Linked DNA regions of Homo sapiens: regions 1 and 2 are each reported to be linked to region 3. Evidence: microRNA targets listed by miRTarBase, many of them from high-throughput screens and not tested one by one. Region 3 holds a microRNA gene; each other region holds the end of a gene's coding sequence.
Evidence for each region. Region 3 holds the annotated microRNA hsa-miR-6769a-3p (GAGCCCCUCUCUGCUCUCCAG, at 3,109-3,129, opposite strand). A microRNA usually pairs through its seed, bases 2 to 8, with sites in the 3' UTR of a target mRNA and lowers its output. Matches are read on the target gene's strand: a 7mer-m8 pairs with bases 2 to 8, a 7mer-A1 pairs with bases 2 to 7 and ends in A, and an 8mer does both.

Region 1 (7,199 bases), not on the chromosome of region 3:
CTCAAGGAGTACATACCTGAGGTTATAAGAGGAACAAGTTCTGGAGACCTAATGTCCAGCATGGTGACTATAGTTAATGATAATGTGTTGAGTACTTGAAATTTGCTAAGAGAGTAGATCCTAAGTATTCTCATCACAAAAAAGGGCAACTATATGAGGTGACAGATATACTAATCAGCTTGATTGTGGTGATCGTTTCACAATGTAAACAAATATCAAAACATTATTTTGTAGACCTCAAATATATATAATTTTTATTTGTTGGTTACACTTCAGTAAAAGTGTAAGAAAAAAGAAAAGAAAGAATAATGAATTGCCTTCAAGTTTACTAGTAAAGGCTGATCTTAGTTTTCGTAAAGTCAGTTTGACTTCCCTTCTCCTTTGTTCCTTCCTGAAAATGCCACAAATGCCATATGTCACACCTACCAGGGCCATGTTCCAGGAGTCTTTTTTGGATTCCCTTTCCCAAGAAGATGTCTTTTGAATCACCCCCTTCCTGGGGCCAGATGACTCTCCATTAGAAAATTGTAATCAGGCTCCTTAATCCAAATAGCTTTATCACAGTTAAATTTCTCTTTTGGAAATTTCCATCAGTCTGCCCTTGGCTTTTACTGGCACATCATCCATTCAGGTGCCCCCAGGGGAAGTGCCTCGCTTAGTAAGAATGGAGACAAAGGAGAGGAGAAGGGAACTGTGGGAGGGTGAGAGAACCAGTGCTGACTGGCTTCTCTCGCCTTCCCTCGCCTTCCCTCACCTTCCCCACCTGGACCCTGGCTGCCTCTCTAGGGAACTCTGTCTCGCTGGCTAGATCCAGCTTCCTCTAAGTCTCATTCTTTGTTCTGGTGTTTGTCACAAGGGTTCATAATATTCTGGGAAGAGCTTGAATTTGGCATCAGAAGACCTGTGTTTGTGTCTGCCTCTTACTATCTGCTTTCTCCTGGGAAATCATCTAACCTCTCAGAACTTCGTTGATAAAATAAGAATATCTACCACTTGTGGTTCTTATCAGACTCAAACACATGTATATGAAAAGCTTTTTGTGAACCATGAAAACCCACATAGACATAGGTCAGATTGCTCTTGGCCATCGATAGTAAAAATATCTATCTTTAATCACAAAGGGAGTGTGGCAGAGGCAAACATTCAAACACATTTCATCCTTTTGTAGTATAGAATGGTCAATGGGAAGTGGCTGCCCCACAAGGATGATATCTCCCAGTCTACTTTGCTTGTGAGTGGGTTGAAGTGACCAGCTTTTACTAATACAAGAATATCAGCGAAAGTAATGAGTACTACTTCAAAATCAAGGTAGTCAGAAGTGTGTGTGTGCTTTTTCTAATTTTTGTGCCATCTACTGATAGATGAAAAACACTCCAGGGCCCCAGAGTCCGACAGAGTTACAAAATAGAAGGAAACAGAGTCCCTGAATCATCACATGGAAGAAAGCCACCTGCTGACCAAGAACATCTTTATTGGATTATTATGGGAGTGAGAAATAAACTTTTATTTTGATAAGGTATTGAAATATTGGGGTTTATTACAGCAGCTAACATGACCCTAGTGAAAAATGAGCCAAAGGGATGGGCATGTTGTGGCTCAATCAGTAAGAAGTGCTGAAAATGAACACGTGCACAATGGCTAACAATGTCTTCTTCATATTGAATAATACACAGGCCATAGGGCCAAGGAGTTGCAAAGGGGCATCTGCAATGGTGTGTCAATTAAGGTAGCCAGGCAGTTTGAGTGTGTGCATGCACGTGTGCGTGCATGTGTGCACACATGCACACACACTACTTTTGTATATATTCTAGGATCACAATATTAAAGCTAGAAGTAATTGACTTCAGAGGTCATTTATGAAAACCTCACTTTATAGTTCAGGAAATTGTGATCCAGGGAGACAATGCATCCAAAGAGAAGATGGATTGTTAGTGGGGGCATCTAAACTAGTACCCAGGGCTTCAGATTCCTGGGATGAATTCCTCAATTCTCCTCCTATGGTTCATTCCAGCTTCTGTTTTGACAAAGCCTAACACCTGGATAACCCAGAAAGGACTCAGAAAATGGGAGCGATGATGGACACAAATGGATTTTGTGATTTTGTGATTTTGCATCTACCATTTAATCTGCTAAAAGGTTTTTTTTTTTTTCATTTTTAATTTAGTGGCTGGCAAAAAACTGAATGAGGCTTTTAGTCCAACCATTTTTCCCTGCCTGCTTTTTGTGCTAATCTGTTTCACTCACAAATTCCATTGACATCTTGTTCTTAGCCTCCATGGTAGGAATTGTGTTCCTGATGCTGCTTTATCAGCCCCAATTTTGGCCATAAGTTTAAGCCCAGGACCCTACTGCAGACACCTTCTAAACCTCAGCAGAGGGCACAGTGGGGCCACAGGTAGGATCCACTTACCCTTAGCCTTCCTCTTGACCTCTATCCTAGCCATGCTTACTGCTGCCATTCCATGACTGTGCCGTGTCATGCTTTACCCTTGTGCCTTTGAATGTGCTGTTCACTTTTTGTCCATCCTTCAATATGAAGCCCCTCACCAAAGTAAATCATGATTTCATCTTCCTTCAAGATCCTACTTACCTGTTACATTCTCTGTGAAGTCTTTCCCAATTCTTCCAGGCTGAGTTAATGTTTCCTTCCATTGTGTTCCCATGGCATTCTGTTTAGGTCACTCTTAGAGTGTTCAGGGCATAGGACTGCCATTAGCATTTGCACTTTGGTGTCCACATGCATCATAAACCTCTTCCCATCACTTGGCTTTTAGAAGGGGCAATAGTACCTACAATGTGATCATCACCCTCCTCTCCACACCTGGGTTGTTTGTACCAGAAGTGAACATTTGACACAAAGCACCCAGTCCATAGGCACTGTGACTGCCTTCTACAAAGGATTCTGCCTTCTCAGAATGGCCCTCTGGAGATGGAGAGTTGACCATATTCTCTTGATAGAGAATTTGCACTCAGAGGAAAAGAGGGAAGTTCCAGTTCATTGTGGTGATCAAAGCTGTGAGGTCATGATATAGTGTCAGGGCTGGTGACTGTGCTGGGCTATGTGCAAGAAAATAAATCAGAGGAAGCACCTTGGGAGATAAAGGAAGAGGATGGGCCCAATGGGCAGAGGGAAGCAAGGGTGAGAGAGGCCAGGTGGCTTGGGGGAGGTAGGGAATGTGGGCTCAGTTCCTGATGGCTTTCAGGCTCCTACGGCCTGGCTGTGCCTCCTGCCTTGGGTTCCACAAGATCCTGCCACCAGGCCTTCGCAGTATTGCCCCTGTTCTTTGAACAAGTTTAGTGGGCTTCTTGATCACTTGCCCCATGTAGACTGTGAGTTCTTTTGTTTGTTTGTTTGTTTGTTTTGTTTTGTTTTAGAGAGAGTCTTGCTCTGTCGCCTAGGCTGGAGTGCAGTGGCACAATCTTGGCTCACTGCAACCTCTGCCTCCTGGGTTAAGCAATTATTGTGCCTCAGCCTCCTGAGTGACTGGGATTACAGGCATGTGCCACCATGCCTGGCTAACTTTTAAAAATTTTAGTAGAGCTGTTAGCCAGGCTTGTCTTGAACTCCTGGCCTCAAGCGATCCACCCACCTCAGCCTCCCAAAGTGCTGGGATTATAGGCATGAGCCACCATGCCCAGCCTAGACTGTGAGTTTCTTGAGGTCAGGAACTATGTCTTGCTCTTCTTTGTATCACCAGAGTGTCATTCAATATATTCAACATGCTCCTAAATTTTTTGTTGAATGAATGATGAGTAAATGAATGAGTGAAGACATGTCTGTTGGTAATAGGTGCAGGGCACTGTTTTCCTAGCTGGAGTCTGTCACGGCCAATGCCTTTCTGATACAGAAACCTCCTTCCTCCATAATTACCACAGCTTTTACTACTACTTACATCTTCCAACTTCGCAAAGTCCAGGTTTTGACAAGTGGCATTTTCCTGAAGTATTTTTGCTTAGAATATACTGGGTCTGACACATTGGCACCTGAGTGTGAGAGGAGGTGACACCTTCACCTGAGTCACGTCTCCTCACAAGAAGCCCACAGTGGCCCCCTGGACCTTTCACTGAAGAAACACAGGTAGAAGCAAGCTGTATGTAGAGAGATATAGTATAGCTTTTATTTTTTTTTTGAACCAACCCAACATTTCCACTGGCAACTGTCAACATAGCTTATGACATGAGCACTGTTTCTTTTTTAATTATTTTTTTCTTAAAAAATGTGTTTAAAATTAACAGGTGTTTTTTAATTTCTTCCCCCCCCCCCTTAGAAAATGTATTTATGTCAATGCAGAAAGCCTAAAGATCCGTGGGCAGTTTCGTGATGACATCTTATGTCTGTTTATTTGTGTGTTTGTGTGCGTGTTTTAAAGCCAGGTCCTTCCCACATTCGTTGAGAAAAGGTCTGTAGGGCACGGAGATCTCTTTCTCCAAAAACCCAGGCTCCAAGGGATTATGACAACTAAGATTCCTCTTACTGGAGCAAGAACTACCCCATAGGCTGGAAAAATAGCTTCATGAAGTTTAAGAACAAGCAGGAACATGGGAGAAATGAGGAATTCCAGTTCCTATCTTGTAAAAATGCTTTCATATGTGACCTGAGGGACCAGGAGAGGTGAAGGGAGCCCCTGGTTCTCTTATAAAATCTCTAAGTTTTTACACCACTTCAAGAAATATAGTCAGCCCTCTTTGTATAGAGCATTAGGAAGCAAGAGCGTGGTGAAGCTGACATTTCTCAGGCACATTGACATTTAAAATACAAACTTTTCTCTTAAAGATCTCACTGGTTGGACATCTCTTCTCTCCTGCCTCAGGTACAAAGCCAAAGATAATCAAGAAGGCCTGTATCCCTTTTGTTCTTCCAGTAGCCCTTTGTCGTCACACACCATTCCTATTTTTGTCCCATCTCTTCTATTTGGCGGGTCTTCCTGCAGAAGGATACACAAGTGGACACTGACACAACAAGACACACAGAATTGGAAAGGCTTGGGCAAAGAGGGACAATTGCTTTTTGTATCTGACTTGATTCAACATAAGCATAAAAAGCTCCTCCTGCTCCAGTTGAAGCTCCTGTAAGATCTTTAGTACCCTGCGTGGGTGAGTGAGCTTATTTCTACCCCAACACCATCACTCCTCCCAAGAACTCAGAGAAAACAGTGAGATGGGGAACTGGATCTTGATGGAGCCAAGAGGTGGCAGGAGAGCATGTGTCTAAAAATTCATGTTTCTCTCTGTTGGCTCGGACCTGGAATTCCTTTGTGGCACCTTTTTCACTCACTTCAGAAAAAAAAGACAAAACAAAATAATAAGCAAAACCTAATGGCAAAACGAAAGCAACCACAATAATGATTACAATGAAAAAAGAACCCCACCCCAGCCACATGAATGTGACTCATTTTCACGTCTTGTCAGCTGAGTGAGATAATAGGGACATATGGAATTGGGCAGAGAGGAGAAACCCTGCTTCCAAAGAAATGAGAGGCAAAGGAATAATCAAAAGATGGAATAGAAGGAGGCGAAAGGCTCTGACCTTTGCTTTGGGTCAGGGATATGAGGGGGAGATGGGGTGGAGGTGGATTTGTTGCTGTTGCTTGTTTGTATTCAATTAAATACTGTGTAAAGTCGGTGATTCCTCCATTGTTTGATTGATTAAGACTTTGCCCTTTCAGTTAATTGCCAGGGCCTAAGTTGGGTGAAGTTCCTGGGGCTTAGGTCCTGATGCTGCCTCTCCAGGGCAGTGCAGTCGGGAGAGATCACTGGTGGGGAAGTGCCCTTCTCTTAGGAGAAGTCCTAGGCCTGCCCTGCTGGAGGCTCTGTTGTGTGGCTTAGAACCCCTTGATGTAGCAATAGGCCTCTAGTGTGGCAAAGAGTATGTAGAGGAGCCACAGGCTCACAAAGAGCCATGTTGTGGCGAGCTTGCAGCCACGGGGGCCACCAAGCTCCCCTCCCAGGTGCGGCCGCCTTCGGTACAAGAGCACGCTGATGCAGACAAATGCAAAGATGGTGAAGAGGGTGACGGAGAAGGCCAGTGTGCCGGCCGACACGTGGAACTCCTGTCCCTGCAGAGCCCAGTAGATGGCGGCCACGGACCAGGCCAGGCCGATGCCCAGGAAGACATTGACGGCGTTGCTGCCCGTCACGTTGCCAATGGAGGCGTCTGCATATACATCCTGGAGGGCAGCAGCTTTGCTGGCAAACGTATCTGGAAAAGGACAAAGACACATGGGAACTGGTAGGAGGCTAAGGTGTGCAGGGCTTGTCTTCCAGTATGCCCAAAAAGCAGCTTGAGCTGGTGGGCTGAACCCAGGAATGAGAGACAAGGGCTAGGGGGCCACTCCTAACTCCTAGTTCTGCCGCAAGCAAGCCGTGTGGCCCTGGGTAGGTCACATCCCTAGTCTGGGCTTCCCATTCCTCATCTGCAGTGATCTGAAAGATTCTGAAGGGCTTTCCAGTTCTGATATTTACTGAGTGGGCTTATTGTTCTCCTTTGACTACTTTTTCAGTAAGGGAAGTTTGCCATCCCATAATATCTCCCCAGGGAACCTTGACACCCTGGGAAGCTGCTTGGAGTAGATGCCTGATTTTAACTGTCATATGGGGCATTTATTCACGAACCACCAACAGTTATTGAGCAATGCCTACTGATTGAGCACTGGGTGAGGTGCTGGATTTTGGGGACAGAGGACATGTTGGGGAACCATGATGGGGACATGCAGGGTGAACTGTGGACTCAAGGAAGACGGGGCTCTGTCTTTGTGGTTTATATATGTATCACAGGGCCTTGCAGGGTGTTTGACTTTAGATCTTGGCACAGATTGTAGATACAGGGAGGACTGTCAGAGACATCTAGCCCAATTCTTTTATTTTACAGGTAAGAAAAATAAGGGTCAAAGAATTTACCCAAGGTCACATAGGATGTTAGCAAGAGACTTGACCCTAAAGTCCTCATGTAAGGACCCTTTCCATACCTTCAACTATATCCAAAGAGCTTCAGCCAAAGCCACTAAATCAGATGAGTGGATCACAGGGTAACCTTCTTAAAGCCTCAAATGTTGTTAGCTGTTGTCTTGGCCAATTGCAAGGACTTGGAGATGCCCAAAGGTATCTGCCTGGCTTACCTCATTATTGCCATTTTTTTTAGATCTCCCAGAGAAAACCTCTTACCCTTTCTTGCCTATGGCCTTGTTTTTTTGTTTGTTTGT
Region 2 (7,199 bases), not on the chromosome of region 3:
TTTCCTTTCCAGTTATCAGTTGTACATTTTGCTCAAACACCCAACTGCTCATATTTCTTCTGTGTACGATTTACTCTAATTTTGCTTTGAGGAAATGATTAATCAGAAACCAGAGGGATGTAGGCCGGGTGTGGTGGCTCACGCCTGTAATCCCAGCACTTTGGGAGGCCGAGGCGGGCATATCACCTGAGGTCGGGAGTTCGAGACCAGCCTGGCCAACATGGTGAAACCCCATCTCTACTAAAAATACAAAAATTAGGTGGGAATGGTGGCGCACGCCTGTAATCCCAGCTACTTGGGAAGCTGAGGCAGGAGGATCACTTGAACCCAGGAGGCGGAGGTTGCAGTGAGCCAAGATCACGCCACTGCACTCCAGCCTGGGCGACAGAGACTCCATACAAACAAACAAAAAAACCAGAGGAATGTATACCAGCGAGTTGAGATACATCTTTTTGGAAAGAACATCATCTTTAATGAATTCTGTAAGAATTGGTTCAGCAATTAACATGGGAAAGTTCATACAGGTGAGATCTTTTAAAAAAAGTTTTTAAAGAAAAGCAAAAAAGCAAGAATACTGGTGAAGATCCTTGGTTTCTAATAACGTGAATCTATTACACAGCAATTGAGCCACCTGGAGAATATGAAAATTCAAATTTCCACCCTCATCTACCTTCTGAAGACTGGGATACACAGTAGCCACCTTTATCTTTCTAGGCTATCTGGATGACTAGAATGCAGTAATGGTGCTAGGACAATTGACACCACTGCTGTCACCCTCACCCACAGTATAAAGTTATCTGTGATCTCTTTTCTGAAAATCTTAAGCTGTCTACAGGCTGGGGTTAAAGAACTTAGATAAGTTTTCTCTTCTTCAGAGAATTGTTTTCAGCAATTCCCTATCAGTTACACCTTTAAGGAACAGGTTAAACTGATTTATATAATTTTATTTTGTTGAAATTCTAACCATTTAGTTTTGGAACTGGACGTAGTCTTGAAAAGAGAACTAGTACCCCACCCTCGCAGGGTGAAAGAATTGGTAGTTGCTACTTTTCTACTGACCAGCAGCATATATTATACAGGAAGGTGACTTTTTTGAAACAGTCTTTCTCTGTTGCCCAGGCTGGAGTGCAGTGGCGTGACCTCGGCTCGCTGTAAGCTCCACTTCCCCAGCTCAAGCGAATCTCATGCCTCAGCCTCCCTAGTAGCTGAGACTACAGGTGTGCGACACCATGCCTGGCTAATTTTTGTATTTTTAATAGAGAGGGGTTTTGCCACATTGGCCAGGCTGGTCTCAAACTCCTGGCCTCAAATGACCCACCCGCCTTGGCCTCCCAAAATGCTGCAGTAACAGGTGTGAGCTACCGCACCCGGCCAGAAGGTGACTTTAGACATGTCAGTAGCCTTAGCGCACATCTACTGCCAGGACTTCTCTGATTTTAAGATTACAGGTTCTGGAAGCCTTTTAAACATTCTCTTTTACTTGTACACCTAGGGTGAACCCCTTGTGTGCAAATAACCTTAAAAGTTGCCTCCTCCAAGCCCAGCTTTTTTTTTTTTTTTTTTGAGACGGAGTCTCACTCTGTCACCCAGGCTAGAGTGCAGTGGCACAATCTTGGCTCACTGCAACCTCTGCCTCCCAGGTTCAAGCAATTCTCCTGCCTCACCCTCCCGAGTAGCTGGGATTAGAGGCACCTGCCATCACGCCCGGCGAATTTTTGTATTTTTAGTAGAGATGAGGTTTCACCATGTTGGTCAGGCTGGTCTCGAACTCCTGACCTTGTGATCTGCCCCGCCTCGGCCTCCCAAAGTGCTAGGATTACAGGTGTGAGCCACCGTGCCCGGCCTAGCCCAGCCTTTTCTTGATCTCAGTTCTATATACTACTGTTAGCATTAGTGATTTGGGCATTGACTGCTTCTAGTGGATGTGTGGGATGGTCTTGCTTATATTAAGTTCAGAGTCTCATTGTTCTCAGGTTTCTAGGATGCAGTGTAGTGTAGTAGCAAGTTTATAAACTTCAGAGCTCATGGGTCAAATCCCACTTACGCCACTTACTTGCATAACACTGTGGACATGTTGCTTAGCCTGAGTTCAACTTCCCCACGTAGAGTAAAACCTACTTTATAAGGTAGCTGTGAGGACCACTGTAACATCTGTAAAACACATAGTACAGTGCTCCAAAAGACAGTAGCTATCAATATGGTATGTTAGCAATAGAGCTCCATATTCTTTTGTGCATGAAATACAAAGAAAACAAGTAGCACTGGTAACAACACATTTATTTACGTACCCTGTTGTGTGACCGGGAGGTGTTTTTCACTTTCCAATAATTGATTCGGTTATAACAATTAAAATTCCAGAAGGTAAACTAGTAATTTATTGTTGCTCATAAGCATAGGTAAACAGACATGGTACCACAATAAAGGAATCTTAAACACTTCTAACCTTTTGGAATAGGTTTGAATATGGACCAATATACTTTGCCAATGGACCTAATAGATTACCAATATACTTCTAAATGTCATGGTTCTCTTCAGACACAACAGAAGAAATCTGGATCTAATTTTTAAACTTCAGAAATTTAACCAAGATGCTTAGGAAGATGCAAAAGGACAGCAGTACTTAAGCCTGTCATATTTATCACCAATATAACTGTATTGCTATTAAAAGTAAAATCATGGTAGGGAGCAGCCAACTAATTGCTAGTCTCAGTTCATAGATTTAGTATTTTTTGAAAATAATTCACCTCAGATGGCAGGCTATACAAGTTTAAAGTAGTTTTAACTTAACCTTTTGTGTACTAGTGAAAGCAATTCAGATAGATCCCAAGTCAAAGAACCAAACAGTGTATCAAGTTGGGTTTCATATCAGAAATCAGCCATTTCCAAACAACTGCATCGTATAGGACGTTTTCTTTCAGACTGCCTTTTATTCCTGGCTTCAAATCTTACTCACAGTATATGTTTTTAGAGAGTTTGGTAAGTGTAACAAATGGGTACTCATTGCTAGAGCAGGATATAAGAATGTGCTGATCACCAAGTATGAGATTTACATTACATTAAATTAAAATTATATAATGTTGGAAATAGACAATATAGGGAGTTCCCGGATCCTAGAAAATATTATGGCTAAGGAAACAGAGAACTCAAGAAATGAATCTACCTCCAAGAAACTAATTCAGTATAGTAAAATAGAATTAAGTGCCCTGTCTCAGGAAAAAGTTTATTAAGAATAAGGAACAAGTGGGACATCATACATCGTTTCTTTGGAGATTAAAGTGCAGGCTATGAAATGGCATATAAAATAATGCATAAAATAGTGCAATCTTAAGGTGCCATTATTTTTATTACACATAGCCTAGTTTTATGTCCATTTTCTCTCAAAAATCCAGCTGTAGTGACACCTTTTAGCTTATTAATTTAGGCATTACTTATACTGTTTTACCCACCTTTGGGGCTACATAGAATATTTTAACATTTTTAACACGTAGAATAATTGCGCATATATCTTGAAACTACTAAATAGAGATTAAGGCAAGCCCCTGTAAAGTTCAGTACTCCAAAAAAAGTGTTTTGCAAAAAAATTGCTTCCCAAATCAGTGGCTTTTGACCTGATGGTACCCCAATAGTCTTTAAAACTATTTTAAAGTATAATGACTCTCAATACATTTGCGTTTGCTCCATTATTTCCAGGCTCTGTACAGGAGTTTGAAAAACAACAGGTTCTATAACCTCAGAATCTGTGAAAACCAGTTAAGCCAAGTGCATGTGGGAGATAAGCAGAGGATCCGGCTGGGGTGGGGTAAGGTCAGCCGTTTCTGTCTCTTAGGCATGCCTTTTCACATTGCTATCCATGTGTGCAGCGCTGTACCAGAATACATTTCTATGTGGGAAGGACCCATTAACATGGAGACGTCTCCTCTGAAAAACAGCCAAGGAAGATAACGGGAATACTTTAAGAAATGTTGCACTAAGACAACGCAATATTAACAACACGCAGTATTTAAATACCTGACTTAAAATGCAGGGCAGAATGGTTCTCTCAGGAGGTTAATTTACAGTTTTCTTGTAACATATGTCAGTTCTAGCTGATCATAATAATCTGCGGTTTGTTGAACCTTAAATACCATTATGCTATCCATAGGTAAGCATAATGGCTATCAAATAACTGTCCTAACAAGTGGTGAAGGCAATATCCTAACATGTTTTAGCTAAATAGCCTAAGATTTAAGATTTGAACAACCGAACTGTAGTGCTTTATTCTCCTACTGCATGGAACATTCATGCATTAACAAGTACAATGAATTAGCTTTATGAATAGATGATTATAAGTGTATGCAATAGAAATTTGGATTTTGTAATAGAAAATTTACCTTGTAACAGTGTGACTACTTATTATGAAAGCCCTATACACATGTTAACTAATGGAAGACTACATAGATGTTTAGGCTATCTAGATGTAGTTTAAAAAGAAATTCAGGAAATTTTTAATAGTTCATGAATGACCATTAAAGAAACAGTCTGGGGCTGTATCCCTTTGATGCATACGGATCACACTCTGTAAATCTGTAAACACATGCTTTGATACGTAAAAAAAAAAGTCTTCCTATGACCGGAAAAGCAGACTAGTAGAGGCCCCGGGTATTCCACCAGGCCTCCTCTAAAGATATGCTAATATGGCTAAATACTATGATTATAAAAATGAGAAGTGCTGAGAAAACGAGTTCCAGACGGGGACTTTTATGGATGACCTTGGCTGACAAATGTTTTTTGGAAATTGTTTTATTTTAAAATTACCTTCCCAACAAACCATGAAACACTTGGATGTTACTTTATGGTTTTTCATTGAAAACATACTACATTGTAAATGGAATTTCAAAGTCAGACATAGAATTGATCAAAATCTAAGGACAATATTATGTAAGGACAATATTAAAAATGGATAGAAAAAGCTTCATTTGGTGAGGTTAATCTAAAGGATGCATAACCATGTCACGGTGGACGGATAAAAAAGGTGATAACCTTGTGCTTTTATTCAACTAAGGTACTTACCAAAACCTTAGGTTTTATACAGGTGTTAAGCTCCCACCTGGAAAGGGACAGTTTTCTATATTACACCTAAATTTACTTTAAATAACTGAAGCCCAAGGAAACAGTTGTTTAAAAGAACTTAACAGTCAAATAGCTACATAATTTAGTAAATTAAAATACAACTAAGACAGTGATAATTGAATGTCTCAAAACTATACAACTGGGGAAAATAACCACTGTACACAATTTGGAGGTTGTTAAAGCGACCACTCAGGAGGTTGAACAGTGCAAGACATGCTTTTCCAGTTACAAGCTCAAAATAGGAGTGCAAACAAAATTAAAGCTTTTGTTTAAAGTTGTAGGGTAAGGAAAGCTTGAAACTAATATTAAAAAGCTTCCCTCAAGGTCATCCTCCAGAAATGAAATAATCAAAATGCTTTTTCATGGTACAATTTTCCTCAATGAACTTTGCTGCAATGGCAAAACTGCATCCCGCAAGTCGAGTCCCCTACTCACTCACCACATCTGATCAATGATCACATGGTGGTGAGCAAAGAGGAGTATTAGCTCCCAGAGGTCCAATATTGATAGAAAGAGCCTTGAAATTTGGGGTTCTGCCTTAGCCAGTGTACCTGAACCCTACAGAGAGCAGATAAAGCAATGGGCTTTAATAGTCTCTTGTTCCTATAAAACTGGAGGACAAATGGATGAACAATTCCCCCTCTAGAGGCAAGCTGTTGCGGTGGAAGATGTTAAGCGTTTAAATAAACTAAGACGCCGCTCTAAAAAGTGGAGAAGTATAGAGGTTCAAGATCAATACCAGTGCAAGAGCTTTTTAAGTGAGTTGACTAGGCAATGCATGCATCCATCCATGCAAATGTAGGACATGGCCCCCAAAGAGAACTGAAAACATGTATAACAGCTGGGTAAGTTCCTTGCCAGTAGTTTATAAAAATATATAGTCAATATTGTAGAGGCTCCTTCTACAGTCAATACTATGGAAGTCCATTTTAGTTACCCATTACTTCAATACCAAAAAGCATTAACTACTTTTCAGACATTCCAGACAAAGGTCACTTATAACAAAAAGATGACTTAAAAAAAAAAGAACCAAGATAGTGTCCATTTAAAAAGTAGGTCTTTTCTTTCAAGTGAACAGGACATTTTCTGTATTAAACTTAACTTCTAGTCTGTCAAGACTGGGTTTAAGATCCTTACGTATGTATGTGCATATATGCAGAAACAAATTAACTTACTTTCAACATTATCTGCACAGAAAAAAGTTAACTCCTCAAAACATGATAGAACAGGTCTGGTTAGTACAAATCTATTGCAAAGTAAAAAGATTCTGTGCATCAGTTCAATCAGGAGAAGCAGGAAAAGAATGTCCCAACCATAAGAGTTCAAGTTTAAGTTGTGTTCTGAAAGCCTAGAAGCTTAAGGGACACCATGTTGCTCACAGTATCCTGATATGCATAACTGCTTAAGCTACTAAGCTGTGTCTTCCTCTGGAACTAGAACCACATTCCAATTTACTTTCTATTCCGAAGACGTTTAGATTTCCTAAGAGAGTCTATGGCTTCCGTGGCCTTTTTTCGTTTCCGAGGAGACTCCTCATTCTGCCCGGACCCTGAGGAATTTCCTACAGCACTTTCCATTACTTCTCGTAGTTTGCGTTCTAGCTCTGCCAACCGTGCATTTTGTTCACCTATGATCTGGGTCTGCTCTAGCAGTTTCTGGTCCTGGTCTTGAAGCTGTTTTTGCTGTTCTTGCACTTTGGTGCGAAGCTCAGAAATTTCACGCCTGAGAACAGTCACGCCAGCACCATTTGTTTTAACCTGCTGCTGGAGTTTGGTAACCTCTTGTCTTGAAGGATTTTGCTTGGAGAAGAGCTGCATTGTTGTTAGGGCTGCAGACGGTCCTGGAACTGTGGAGGAATAATTCAAAAGGGTCAGTCACTTAAAATGTCTCTCTACCAGTAATACTTACACTTATTTAAAAATGGAATACCCTTACTATGTCACTTCTGATAATTTCTTCTTCTTTGCAATCCATTTGGTCAGTTGGGTTAATCATCATAATTTAACACCTTATTTTAACTATAAATGAGTTTAAATTCTGATTCTCCTGCTCATGTGGCAGTATGTAGACTGCCAGGAAACGGAGAAGGG
Region 3 (7,199 bases):
TGACCAACATGGTGAAACCCCATCTCCACTTAAAACACAAAAATTAGCCAGGCATGGTGGTGCAGGGCTGTAATCCCATCTACTCAGGAGGCTGAGGCAGGAGAATCACTTAAACCCGGGAGGCGGAGTTTGCAGTGAGCCGAGACTGCAACACTGCACTCCAGCCTGGGTGACAGAGCGAGACTCTATCTCAAAAAAATAAAATAAAATAAAATAGCCAGGCATGGTGGCTCATGCCTGTAACACCAGCACTTTGAGAGGCTGAGGCAGGCAGATTACTTGAGGCCAGGAGTTCAAGACCAGCCTGGCCAACATGGCAAAACCCCATCTCTAATAAAAGTAAAATATTAGCTGGCCATGGTGGCAGTTGCCTGCAATCCCAGCTACTAGGGAGGCTGAGACAGGAGAATTGCTTGAACTCAGGAGGCAGAGGTTACAGTAAGCTGAGAACTCGCTACTGAACTCCAGCCTGGGCGACAGCACGAAACTGTCTCAAACAAAAAATAATAAAAATAAAATAAGAATAAAGATTTCATTCACTCATCAATTTTCGTTCAGTTCATCTGCCCTGGAGCGCCTCTGTAGCCCTTTGTTCTGCAAGCCTTGCCTGGCTGGAGGCAGACGTGAAGATCTGAATGCCCCGTGCTAGCGTCCCTGCCAGCTCTCTCACGGTGACTGACTCCGACAGCCAACACGCCCACGTTCAGCACAGACTAGATGAATGACAACTCTTCTTTCTTAGCCATCAACGGACCTGTGGCCCCCTATCCCAGGACCACCGTGGTGTGGCCAGTCCCTAATTTCCAGAACCTTCCACAGAACAGCCGGCCGGGGAACTCACGCAGCCGGCAGATGGGGCAGTTGTTGGCCTGGTAGCGCAGCGTGTCGGCGCAGGAGGTACAGAGGCACAGGTGGCGGCAGGGCAGGATCAGCGTGTCCCGCAGGTCGGACAGGCACACCACACACTCGTTGCTGTTGTCGCTGTTCTCGTCGTCCGAGGGCTGCCGGGACAAGGGCTTGTGGGTCAGCAGCCTCCCAAAGGCCAGAGTACGGCTCCTGCTTCCTGTCCCCAGCTGTCCCACCCCACTCCACCCTACCCTGGGGGCTGTCATGACAAAGAGAAGTCCAGAGGGGAGGGGGAGGTTGCCCCAGAGCAGAATCACCAGGCTCAAATCCAGTGCAAACTCAGCACCTGGCAGAGGGGGAGGGTCTGTGCCCCTCACCCACCCAAATCATGAGAACATGGTCTCTTTCTGTTCTTCAGACCTAAAGAAAAAATGAGGAACAGATGCACCTAAGAAACACATCTTCCTGAGGGTCAGGGTACCCGTTATCTTTGGTTTAAAAAAAACCAAGTTAATGGTCAGGCGCGGTGGCTCACGCCTGTAATCCCAGCACTTTGGGAGGCTGAGGCGGGCAGATCACGAGGTCAGGAGATCGAGACCATCCTGGCTAACATAGTGAAACCCCGTCTCTACTAAAAATACAAAAAATTAGCCGGGCATGGTGGCACGTGCTTGTAGTTCCAGCTACTCAGGAGGCTGAGGCAGGAGAATGGCGTGAACCCAGGAGGCGGAGCTTGCAGTGGGCCAAGATGGCTGCCACTGCACTCCAGCCTGGGCAACAGAGCAAGACTCCATCTCAAAACAAACAAACAAAAAAAACAAAAAACAAGTTAATATGTTAGAAGTATTTTCATTAATGGCAGCTACCAGAAACCACATTAGCAACTGGACAAAAAGAAAGCCAAAAATCTAAAACAGGTGTCCACAAACTAGGCCTGTGGCCTGTTTCTATAAATAAAATCTTACTGGAACACCGCCACACCCACTCATTTTTATACAGTCCCCGCTGCTCCTGTTGTAATGGCAGCGTGGAGTCAGTGCAACAGAGACCATATGCCCGGGCGGCTGAAAACATTCCCTCTCTGAACCTTTTCTCAAAGTGGGCCGCCCCCTGGTATGAAACATGAATGCACTGACTTCCCTGGGTTGAGGCGAGGCCCGGCCAGGTGCTCCGCTCCCGCCACGTGGAGCTGCTCCAGTTGTCCTGGGCCCAGATGCCATAATGAAGCGGGCCTGTGAGACTTTCCAAGAGATCTTAAGAGGCAGGAGTTTCACTCATGTCAGTGTGCCTTTTAACAAGTTCATCGACCAGGCGTGGTGGTCTCAGGCCTGAAATCCCAGCACTTTGGGAGGCTGAGGCAGGCAGATCACTTGAGATCAGAAGTTTGAGACCAGCCTGGCCAACATAGTGAAACCCCATCTCTACTAAAAATACAAAAATTAAAAATTAGGCTGGGCGCGGTGGTTCACGCCTGTAATCCCAGCACTTTGGGAGGCCGAGGAGGGTGGATCACAAGGTCAGGAGATCAAGACCATCCTGGCCAACATGGTGAAACCCCGTCGCTACTAAAATACAAAAAATTAGCCGGGTGTGGTGGCGCGTGCCTGTGGTCCCAGCTACTCAGGAGGCTGAGGCAGGAGAATCGCTTGAACCCGGGAGGCGGAGGCCACAGTGAGCCAAGATCTCCCTGCTGCATTACAGCCTGAGCAGCAGAGTGAGACTGACTCAAAAAACAAAAACAAAAAAAACTAATTTCATCCCCTGCTACATTCCCTGACTGGGGTACACCACGGCTTATTTGTCAGGCACCAGGACTGGTTCTATGGACATACAGAATAAGCATCCCTCCCCCAGGAGCTGCAGGGACGTGCTGTCTCTGGGGAGGCGGGCAGGAGCCGGGCAGCAGGGTGCCACACACCTGAGCCTAGAGGGTGAGACACTGGCCCCCATTCCTGGGCTGCCCTGGGGAACCTGGATGGCAATTTACATCAGAAGCTAGTGAATTTGCTGGAGAAAGGATAAAATGTTCCCTAAACTGTTAGCTTTAAAAAAAATTAAGGAAAAATGATGTTGTCTAGCGGGTCTAGGACTCCAGGGGAAGGCATGGAAGGGAACCGGCAAGCATTGCTGTCCGCGGCTGCTCCTGGTGTGGGCTTCTGTAATGGCAGAGGGAAACCTCACCCAGATACACACCTTGGTCTCCTGGTTGTTCTTGTTCTCAATGCCATAGATCTCCTGCAGGAGGTAGCTGACCCGGTCCACCTGGAGAGCAGAGAGGGGCTCACTGGGCCCTCGCCAACTGCCATATGAGGGCTCCTCCATACCCACCTGGCCTAGCCCTGCCTCCAACTTACCAGGCTTCCATACCAGGGGTCAGTCCAGCTCAACCCCTGGGGGCCAGGAGAAGGGCAGGGAAAACCTGCTGCTTGCCCCCACCCAACCAGCAGCACCTGGAACAGGGCTGGAGCCGGTGGCTCTCCCCACTACTGGGGGCCTGAAGCCAACCCACAGGCCCAACCACCACCCCCTGACCGCCTCACCACCCCCAACACCACTTGGCTCCACCACCACCAGCCCCACGAGGAAAGCAGGAGCTGACGCCTGAAGGCACCAGACAGCAGCCTAAGTTCCCACTGCTTTCCAGATCCTCCTTCCAAAAGGCATGAAGCCTCTCTGGTTTCAAAGACGCCAAAGCAATGTCTCCAAGCTGATTCTGTCCTGCCACCCACTTGCAACCAAAAAGCCTCACGCTGACCACATTGCAAAGCGGTTTGTGCTGCTGGGTTTCCCAGAGACCATGGGCCAGGAGCACCACTCCAGGGAGCCCAGGGCCTGCTGGTCAGCTCTCTCAACACAAGGCCCTGACCATCACTGGGGTCTCCTGTTCCCCTGGTACCTGCAGGGACCTGGACCTGCTAGAGTTTGCTGCACCTCTCTTTTGTTTATTGTGATTTACATTTTAAATAGACAGGATCTCGCTACATTGCCCAGGCTGGTCTGGAATCCCCAGGCTCAAGCAATCCTCCTGCCTCCACCTCCCATAGTGCTGGGATCATAGGCATAAGCCACTGCACCTGGACAAACTCTCTTCTAAAAAGCTAACAGATGGCCGGGTGCAGTGGCTTACACCTATCATCCCAGCACTTTAGTAGGAGGCCGAGGCTGGTGGATCACTTGAGCCCAAAAGTTTGAGACCAGCTTGGCCAACATGGCAAAACCTCATCTCTACAAAAAATACAAAAATTAGCCAGGCATGGTGGCGCGTGCCTGTAGTCCCAGCTACTCGGGATGCTGAGGCAGAAGAATCACTTGAACCCAGGAGGTGGAGGCTACAGTAAGCTGGGATCATGCCACTGCACTCCAGCCTCGGCGACAGAGTGAGACTCCATCTCAAAAATACAAAACAAAATAAAACAAAACAAATTAACCAACTGTGGTGGCGCACACCTGCAGTCCCAGCTACTTGGGAGCCTGAACGAGAAATCACTTGAACCTGGGAGACAGAGGTTGAAGTGAGCTGAGATCGCGCCACTGCATTCCAGCCTGGGCAACAGAGCGAGACTCTGTCTTGTCTCAATAAAATAAAATTAAAATTAAAATTAAATTAAATATTTAAAAAATTAAAAACTAACAAAAATCATTCCCAAGTGGTGGCTTGAAACAGGTCTTATGCGCCCCAACAGTACACACGGAGTAACTGTTAGCTGTGGCCTAGGACATCTCATTAGCAAGATCTAACACTGCTGTTTAGGGCACCCCATCCTCTAAATTCTCGGTGCCTACTTGTGAGGCCACCAGGAATAACACTTCCCAATGCAGCATCCCAGGATCGCTGACCCCAGAGAACAGATGTACTGCTCTATAGCTCCATTTATTCTCAACTATTTAATCCTTCTTTTCAAGTATTGATGAAGTCAAGCTAAGTCTCTGTCCAATACTGACATATTGGACAATTTGTAAGGAAGAGGAGAAGGAGTTGCAGACTTTGTTTCTGGTCTCTTTCCTTCCTTTTCCATCCATCCATTCGGCAAATATTTACTTAACACTATGTTCCAGACACAATGGCTCAAACTGGACAGAACTCAGGGCCTGCAGGCGTCCCTGTACATGGCGGGCACGCAAAACATATATGCTCACCCAAGACAGGGACCCGTCGTCCCAGAGCTTAGAGCTCTACAGGGAAGTCAACAGGCTGTTGCACAGCTTTTTTTTTTTTTTTTTGACACAGTCTTCCTCTGTCACCCAGGCTGGAGTGCAGTGGCATGATCTCGGCTCACTGCAACCTCCACCTCCTGGGTTCAAGCCATTCTCCTACCTCATCCTCCTGAGTTGCTGAGATTACAGGCATGTGTTATTATACCCGGTTAATTTTTTTATTTTTAGTAGAGACGGGGTCTCACCATGTTGGCCAAGCTGATATCAAACTCCTGGGCTCAAGTGATCTGCCCACCTCGGCCTCCCGAAGTGCTGGGATTACAGGCGTTAGCCACTGCGCCCAGCCCCTGCACAGTTATTTCAAAGGCAGCAGCAAGGGTAGCCTAGGAAGACCAGTGCATGAAGACTACTGAAGAGTGTGTGTGTGTGTCTATATATAAGTGTGTGTGAGTATATGTGTGTCTGTACATATGTGTATGTGTGTGTGTCTATGTGAGTGTATGCGTCTTTGTATATGTGCGTGAGTGATTGTATGAGTGTGTCTATGTATATGTGTGCAAGTGATTGTGTGTATGTATGTCTGTATATGTGTGCGAGTGAATGTGTGTCTATGTATATGTGTATGAGTATACATGTGAGTTTATGTGTGTGAGTATATGTGTGGGTATGTGTATGAGTGTGTGTCTGTATACGTGTGTGTATGTGTATATGTGTATGAATGTCTATGTGTGTGTGAATGGGTATATGTGTGTGTATCAGTATGTGTCTATGTATATGTGAGTGAGTGTGAGTGTATGTGTGTATGTGTACGAGTGTGTCTATGTATATGTGTGTGACTGAGTATATGAGTGTGTCTGAGTGTGTGCATCTGAATGACTGCATGTGAGTGTGAGTGTATGTGTGTATGAGTGTCGTGTCTGTATGAGTGTGTGCGAGTAGGAGTGTGTTTATGTGTGTATGTGTGTGTCTGTGTGTTTATGTGTCTATATATGTGTGAATGTGAGTGTCTGATGGTATGTATGTGTGTCCGTATATATGTGCAAGTGAATGTGTATGAGTGTGTATGAGCGTGTATGAGTATATGTGCGTGTGTATGAGTGTGTGTCTATGTATGAGTATGCGTGTGAGTGATTGTATATGTGTGTCTTTTAATTCAAGCACGTCATATTTCCTCTGATGACTTACAATTTGCTTCTGCTTTAAAGGCTTCACAGAGAAGCTGCCGTCCATGTGCTGCAGGGGAGAAAGACAAAGAGGTTAAGGTGGTCAAGCTGGCGCCTCTGAGCACCCCTGCGTGGCCGCCTGGGTTGGCCACCCTGCCCCAGCCAATCCATGCCCACAGCTGGAAAAAGAAAAAAGAAAAAAAAAAAAAAGGGTGGGGCCACTTGACAGCGAAAGAGCCGGGATTTCTGAAAACACGGCCTCAGGCCTGGCTGTGCAACTATCTGAGGCCTCCAGAACACACAGCCCGGGGACCCTCTGCTGACCCACAGAACCCAACTCTCCTCGGTTGGTCTCAAGCACACTCAAGCTGAATGCCAATCAGCCAAGTTCAGATGATGGACAAGGGCCTCCTGCACACCGAGAAGTATCACCTGGCAGCAAGAATCAAGACAGACAAAACAGCTTCCTGCTCTCCCAGGCCCGGCTGAGTTAGAAAGACAGAGCGGGAGCACGCACAGTGGTGCACACACAGGGAACCGCAAAGCTCTAAAAACGCAGGAACGAAATAGAACAAGCACACCCGGCGGTATCCAGGGAAACACACCACCGCTCAGAGTTCAACAAGGTTAATTACGGCTTGAGATCGGAGACCTCGCAACAACACTCATTATCCCTTCTCAGTCAACCACCATCAGCACTCAGAATTTTCCAGTGAGGCTGGTGGGTTCTAACAGAAATTTCCAGAATGTTGGACTCCAAAAATAAAGCAGTTTCCCACTGGGTTCTGTACTTCAAGCACAGAATAGACCATTTTGCCAGAGATGTCCCATCTGCCTCTGCCAGAGGATGCAGATGTGTCAATAGTCACCGTGGCTTCTGACGAGTCCGGGCCGGGGAGAGCAGCTGGGGAGCCCAGTACTAAAAAGGCAGAAGGCTGCCCTCTGCCCAGGGCACTTGTGTCACCACAGTCTGTGGTCCTGGACCCGGGAGAGAACAGACCCAGCCTCGCCACAGGACACACAGAGGAGAGGGTC

Region 1: miRTarBase lists SLC8A3 as a target of hsa-miR-6769a-3p. Seed matches in the 3' UTR shown: 7mer-m8 at 4,621-4,627.
Region 2: miRTarBase lists FBXO28 as a target of hsa-miR-6769a-3p. Seed matches in the 3' UTR shown: 7mer-m8 at 3,535-3,541.

What each region holds. Positions count from the first base shown.
Region 1 is chr14:70,040,125-70,047,323 of GRCh38, forward strand. It overlaps SLC8A3 (solute carrier family 8 member A3), which reads right to left. Exons shown (of 7, transcript NM_182932.3): 7 at 4,091-6,199. The coding sequence ends at 5,823. Among named protein-coding and RNA genes, the nearest start is that of SNORD169, 66 kb to the left of the region's middle.
Region 2 is chr1:224,157,108-224,164,306 of GRCh38, reverse strand. FBXO28 (F-box protein 28) reads right to left here. Exons shown (of 5, transcript NM_015176.4): 5 at 2,260-6,955. The coding sequence ends at 6,561. Among named protein-coding and RNA genes, the nearest start is that of DEGS1, 23 kb to the left of the region's middle. RefSeq lists enhancers at 1,395-1,895, 3,666-3,960 and a silencer at 3,666-3,960.
Region 3 is chr16:4,667,300-4,674,498 of GRCh38, reverse strand. MIR6769A (microRNA 6769a) reads right to left here and starts at 3,181; the gene lies at 3,109-3,181. It overlaps MGRN1 (mahogunin ring finger 1), which reads right to left. Exons shown (of 17, transcript NM_015246.4): 8 at 6,187-6,234; 9 at 3,040-3,108; 10 at 842-1,001. RefSeq lists enhancers at 254-841, 842-1,431.